2 linked regions of the Homo sapiens genome follow. The protein of the gene in region 2 purifies or fractionates together with the protein of the main gene of each other region. This does not show direct contact. Each region holds a gene or a part of one and is shown on either strand. Other genes may lie near its edges. The genes, in order: NMT2 and DEFB1.

Region 1 (3,823 bases), on a different chromosome or scaffold from region 2:
CTGTACACTTTTTTTTTTTTTTTTTTTTTGAGACAAGGTCTCACTCTGTCATCTGGGCTGGAGTGCAGTGGCACAATCTCAGCTCACTACAGCCTTGACCTCCTGGACTCAAGTGATCCTCCCACCTCAGCCTCTCAAGTAGCTAGGACTACAGGCACATGCCACCACACCTGGCTAATTTTTGTATTTTTGTAGAGACAGGGTCTCACTATGTTGTCTAGGCTGGTCTCGAACTCCTGAACTCAAGCAGTTCACCCACCTCCGTCTCCCAAAGTGTTGGGACTACAGGCGTGAGCCACCGTGCCCGGCGATCTGTACATTTTGAACAAGTATGTTTTCATCTATATTTCTTTATCCATATCAAAAAATTAACCACTATTTAAAATATTCTACCATCTCACAAGAAAAATCATGTAGGATATTTTGACTTCTTTTCATTTCCTAGGTTTAATTGAAATAACCTGGAATTGTAATTCTTTTATTTTTGCCCTTGTGTCACTAGAGACTTTTTTCTTAACTATTACATGTTTCACATTCCTGTTAACAAAAACATTTTAGACTTTCCTGACAGCTTTATTGTTTTTATGGGTTTCCATCGTTCTTTATAAAACACATCCTCCCGGCCAGGCGTGGTGGCTCGCACCTGTAATCCCAGCACTTTGGGAGGCCGGGGTGGGCGGATCACCTGAGGTCAGGAGTTCGAGACCAGCCTGGACAACATGGTGAAACCCCATCTCTACTAAAAATACAAAAAAACATTAGCCAGGTGTGGTGGCGGGCGTATGTAATCTCAGCTACTCGGGAGGCTGAGGCAGGCAGGAGAATCACTTGAACCCAGGAGGTGGAGGTTGCAGTGAGTCGAGATTGCACCATTGCACTCCAGCCTGGGCGACAGAGCAAGACTCTGTCTCAAAAAAATAAAAGTAAAAAATAAAACACATCCTGTCTTTTTCTTCTTTAACAGCATTCTCACATGATTTTTTTTCTTAGAGTGCGTGGATGATGTATTTTGAGTTCTTGCATGTCTGAAAATGCCATTCTTTTCCCCTCCCACATAATACATAGCCTGGGTGTGCATGTGACTCTATGATAACAATCGTTTTCCTTGAAACTCCATAAACGTTTTAATATCTTCCAGTATTTACTGGTACAGATGTTGTTTTCTTTGTGTTTTTTTTTTTTTTTTTTTTTTTTTTTTTGATTTTTGAGGCAGAGTCTCGCTCTGTCACCCAGGCCAGGCTGGTCTCGAACTCCTGACCTTGACCTCAGGTGATCCACCTGACTCGGTTCCCCAAAGTGCTGGGACTACAGGTGTGAGCCACTGTGCCTGGCCAGATGCTGTTTTCTCTGCTTCTCTGTCTTTTATAGGTAATCTTATTCTTTTTGTCTGTTTTAACTTGTTTTCAGTCTAGAAGCTTCTGGCATTTTTTCCCTGTTGTTCTATTACCAAAGGGTTTCCATGTCCTTTCACATGCTGGGATCGCCTGTCCTTTATTTTTTATTTTTTGCAATGGAGTCTTACTCTGTTGCCCAGGCTGGAGTGCAGTGTCGTCATCTTTGCTCACTGCAACGTCCACCTCCCAGGTTCAAGCGATTCTCCTGCCTCAGCCTCCCAAGTAGGCAGGATTATAGACGCACACTACCATGCCTAGCTAATTTTTGTATTTTTAGTAGAGACGGGGTTTCACCACGTTGGCCGGCTGGTCTCGAACTCCTGACCTCAAGGAATCTCCCCACCTCAGCCTCCCAAAGTGCTGGGATTACAGGTGTGAGCCACTGCACCTGGCACCTTTCCTTTACTATCTAAACAAAATGGCCTGAGCTGATACATGTTCATGGGGGTTTCTTGGGGTCTTAAGTTTTCATGGTCCTCAGGCACACCCACACTGCAGCCAACTTGCCCCATCACCGGGCTCCTTGTGCCTGTGTGTCCTTAGGGTGCTCTTTTTCTTCAACATTTGACCTTGGGTGGAACACGGTTATCTTCAGTTCTGTGTCTCTCACCACCCTCCTCCCAGGAATCACTAAAATCCAGCTATTGTGCACAGCATTTGCTGAAGCGTTTGTGGCTAATGGGGAGGGAGGGAGGTCTGATTACAGAGTAGCGCAGAAAACAACTTTGAATTCAGTGTCAGACATCATTGTTCACCAAGAGGAATTTGTTACTGCTCACGCCTTTCTGTGGGTCATGGCTTCCTCTGCTTCTGAGAGTGTCTCCTGATCTTTCTTCTCCTCTTCTCTAAGTTCAAGGTCAGCCCAAATGTCCTTTCTTTCATGAAGCCTTCCGCAGCCACTATGACCAAAGGCGCTGACCCCTGCCGGAAGCCCTGTAGCTCTTAGTGAGTGTATCTTTCCCGTGACATCTTTCCCAGTTGCTCTCACCTCATCTCCCCAGCCCTCTGCTCGGGAAGACCCTCATTCTCCTGCCCCAAGCTGTGGCTCCTAGAGGTGAGTTCCTTGTCCACAATCACAAATGGGAGATGTGGGTCTTTGCGTCTGTTGCTTAATGTGTGTGTAGCATCTACCAACCAGCTAGAGTAAAAGGTTTTATTTTGCTGGGCGCAGTGGCTCACGCCTGTAATCCCAGCACTTTGGGAGGCCGAGGCGGGTGGATCACCTGAGGTCAGTAGTTCGAGAGCAGCCTGGGCTACATGGTGAAACCCCATCTCTACTGAAAATACAAAAATCAGTCTGGCACGATGGCGGGCACCTGTAATCCCAGCTAATCGGGAGGCTGAGGCAGAATTGCTTGAACCCGAGAGATGGAGATCACTTTATAAGCACATACTGCAGTGAGCCGAGATTGTGCCACTGTACTCCAGTGAGCCTGGGCGACAGTGAGACTCTGTCTCAATAAATAAATAAATAAATAAATAAATAAATATTTTAAGGAGGTTTTATTTAAATATACAATAGGTTATCTGAAAATAAAGTATGGCTGGACTTTATTAGAATTAAACATTATAGAAAGTCAAGTACCCAAGGTCCATCTGTCTTTCTAACCTCTCTCCCTTTCTGTCTCAGTCTCTGTCAACTAGACTGCCCCAAGCATCTGTTCCTTAGTTCAGATTCTCCAGAAAGGATCTCACTGGTTTCTGGCCAAGAAAGGGATTATCCAGGCATGATCCAGTCCACTGTGATGGAGAAGGGAAAGGGAGGGGTAGAAGAGAATTGTGTGGTACAACATGGCCACTGAGGGCCACACCTTTGGTGAGACCTGTGGGCAAAGGGAGTTTTCAGGGAAGGACATAGTGAACAATGCTGGCACCTTGCTGGGACTGAATTGTATCTCCCTGCCAATTCATATGTTGAAGCCTAAATCCCCAACGTGATGGTGTCTGGAGGTGGCACCTTTGGGGGGTAAATAGCTTACAAGGGTGGAGTCCCCATGAATCGGATCAGTGTATGCTTATAAAGAGATAGAGTCCAGTGCTTTGTTGCTCTGCCAAGAATAAGGCCCTCACCAAAAACCTGACCCTGCTGGCACCCTGATCTTGGTGGACTTCCAGCCTCCAGAACTGTAAGAAATAAATGTCTTTTCTTTAAGTAATCAGTCTATCGTATTCTGTAATAGCAGGCTGAACTAAGACACACCTCAAAACATGTTTGCAGAACACAGCGTGTCTGCCTGTCTACTCACAGGTAGATTGTGTGCATGGAGACAGCACTTTCAGTCTCCAATCCTTGCAATACCTGGTACCTTGCATGTGTTTGTAACTTACTAAAGATTTGCAGAATGGATTCCAATAGCTCTTAATTCCCATTGACAAATTTATTTCAAATTGTCTTTATTTTATATGCATTAAGAATATGTGAAGGCTTT
Region 2 (2,746 bases):
CCAAAGGACTATTTCACTGAGCAGACTGCTGAGACCTCTGAATTATGTGGACACTTGAGAATCAGTCATGTGTTGGGGCCGGCGTCGTGGCTCATGCCTGTAATCCCAGCACTTTGGCATTTTGGGAGGCCAAGGCGGGTGGATCACCTGTGGTCAGGAGTTCGAGACCAGCCTGGTCAACATGGTGAAACCCTGTCTTTACTAAAAACAAAAACAAACCCCAAAAATTAGCCAGGTATGGTGGCCGGCACCTGTAATCCGAGCTAGTCGGGAGGCTGAGGCAGGAGAACTGCTTGGGCTTGGGAGGCAGAGGTTGCAGTGAGCCGAGATTGTGCCACTGCACTTCAGCCTGGGCGACAAGAGTGAAACACCAGCTCAAAAAAAAAAAAAAAAAAAAAAAACCAAAAAAAAAAAAACCAAAATCAGTCACCTGTTGGTTTGTGGATCAAACAAAGTGGAGGTGACATCACTGAAGCCTAGGACATCACTCCCCTTTTCCAGGCAGGCTTTGTGGTTCGACCTGTCTCACGTTCCAACCCATGCACCCTAACCCCCTACTTCTTTACCTCTTCCAATTGAGACACAAGATTCATTTTGGCCCAAAGGAGGTATACTTCAAAAGCAATTTTCCTTTATTAAAAGAATGCTTATAAAAAGTTCATTTCACTTCTGCGTCATTTCTTCTGGTCACTCCCAGCTCACTTGCAGCACTTGGCCTTCCCTCTGTAACAGGTGCCTTGAATTTTGGTAAAGATCGGGCAGGCAGAATAGAGACATTGCCCTCCACTGCTGACGCAATTGTAATGATCAGATCTGTGGCCAAGGCCTGTGAGAAAGTTACCACCTGTAAGGAGGGAACACAAACACTTCAGACTCATGGCTTGTAGCTGCAACGATTTGAGAACATCTCGCGAAAGCAGAACAAATAACTGCAAAACACCGGAGAGTCTTCTCTTCCAAGAAATTGGCCCATGATTGATCTTTGGGGCTACTCATGAAATGAGGTGTCTGAACAGCTTACTCAGTCTGGGGCTATGCCAGCTGTGGCCAAATACAAGCCAAGGAATGAGCAGTGGGGTTCTGAGTGGGGTTTTCTTCTGCTGAGAGATTTTAAATGTGCAGGGAATTCAAGTTATTTTTCCAAACAAGTTTTCTGCCTTGTCTCAACACACCCCAAAATCACATCCTGTGTTTTAGAAATGTGGAAGCAGCTGCCACTCTTCAAACACAGCCTACACTTCCCTCCTTCCATGCCTTCAGTTACGCTGTTCCCTCTGCCTTGAATCCCGGCCCCCTCACTTCCCACATCACTATTTCAGCTGAAATCTAGGATCGTTTCACATCGGGCTGAAATTATGGTTACTCTCTAAAACTTTCATAGTTTTTTTTTCTACTTGGACTTTATTTTGCCCTTCTCCCAGTATCCCAGATCTGATAAATAGAGACAGTACTCTGGAATAGCCTTCTATTCCATGCAACAGGGAACAGTCGCCTGTGATATTCCTGGCGAGGGACCAGCAGGCCGCCATGTTGCAAGTCTCCACTGGTAGGCGTTTTGGACTGAACTGAATCCCCTAGGAAAAGAATTCCTGTGTCGAAGCCCTAACAGTGCCTCAGAAGGTGATTGTATTTGGAGAGAGAAACTTTAAAGAGGTGATTCAAGTTAAACACGGTCATTGGGGTGTGCTCTGATCCATAAGACTTGCATCCTTATAAGAAGAGATTGGGACAGACACACACAGAGGAAAGACCATGTGAGGACCCAGGGAGGCGGCGGTCATCTACCAGCCAAGGACAGACACCTGAGAAGAAGCCAACCCTGCTTCCACCTTGATCGCAGACTTCCTGCCTCCAGGACTGCGAGGAAATAAATTTCTGTTGTTTAAACTGCCTGGTCTGTTTATGGGCAGTTTAAACGATAAATCTGGTAGCCTGAGCGGACTAATACAAGAGGCCATCGCTACCCTAGGAGACAGTACATTCTCATGTTGCAGATCTCTGTTGGAAAGATGGCTTTCACACCGATGGAAATTGTCTCATCAGTAACTTCCATCCAAAGGCTATTTTTCCACTTTTTGCAGTAATTCCACTTTTGAAAAACTCTTCTCATTGTCCTCAATGCCTGGTTTCTGGTCCCTTCCCAAACCTCTTCATTCTCCTGTGGATGTGTTTAAGTTGGCCAGTACACTTCCCAAAGTTTGAAGCCTGGTATCAATACAGAGTCCCTTCAATGTGTTCCGCCAACCAAGGTAAATAGAGGCTTCATTTCTCTCATTTTGTTCTCAAAGCAGCACCATCCAATATGGCAGCCACATGCTCCCTGTGGCTGTTCTCTTTTAGGTTAATTGAAATCACCCTAGCCGCATTGCAAGTGCTCACGAGCACTATGTGGCTAGTGGGTGCTGCATTCATTGAACAGCAGATATAGAATCTTTTTACCACTGCAGAACGTTTTATTCAACTTCATTTCAATAGAAGGTACTCTGTATTGATACCAGGCTTCAAACGTTGGGAAGTCTATTGGCCAACTTAAACACATCCACAGGAGAATGAAGAGGTTTGGGAAGGGCCCGGAAACCAGGCATTGAGGAGAATGAGAAAAGAAGAGTTTTTTTGTGTTGCTGTGGAGATGGAAGGGAATTGAGAGGCACTCTGGTTCTCCCATCCCAGTACTCAGGGAAGCATCTTGGGCCAAGGCCACTCATTTGTTCATACAAAACACAGTCTCTTGATTGCCAGCTTATAT

The links.
Region 1: the proteins of DEFB1 (region 2) and NMT2 purify together in Homo sapiens (affinity purification with mass spectrometry; 2 studies listed by BioGRID and IntAct, with this or other methods). This does not show direct contact.

The regions. Positions count from the first base shown.
Region 1 is NC_000010.11:15,158,458-15,162,280, reverse strand, and holds part of NMT2 (glycylpeptide N-tetradecanoyltransferase 2), read left to right. Parts: intron 1-2,244; exon of another isoform or gene 2,245-2,448; intron 2,449-3,823.
Region 2 is NC_000008.11:6,869,983-6,872,728, forward strand, and holds the end of DEFB1 (beta-defensin 1 preproprotein), read right to left. Parts: intron 845-2,746; coding exon 699-844; 3' UTR 610-698; downstream 1-609. UniProt on the Homo sapiens protein: Has bactericidal activity. May act as a ligand for C-C chemokine receptor CCR6. Positively regulates the sperm motility and bactericidal activity in a CCR6-dependent manner.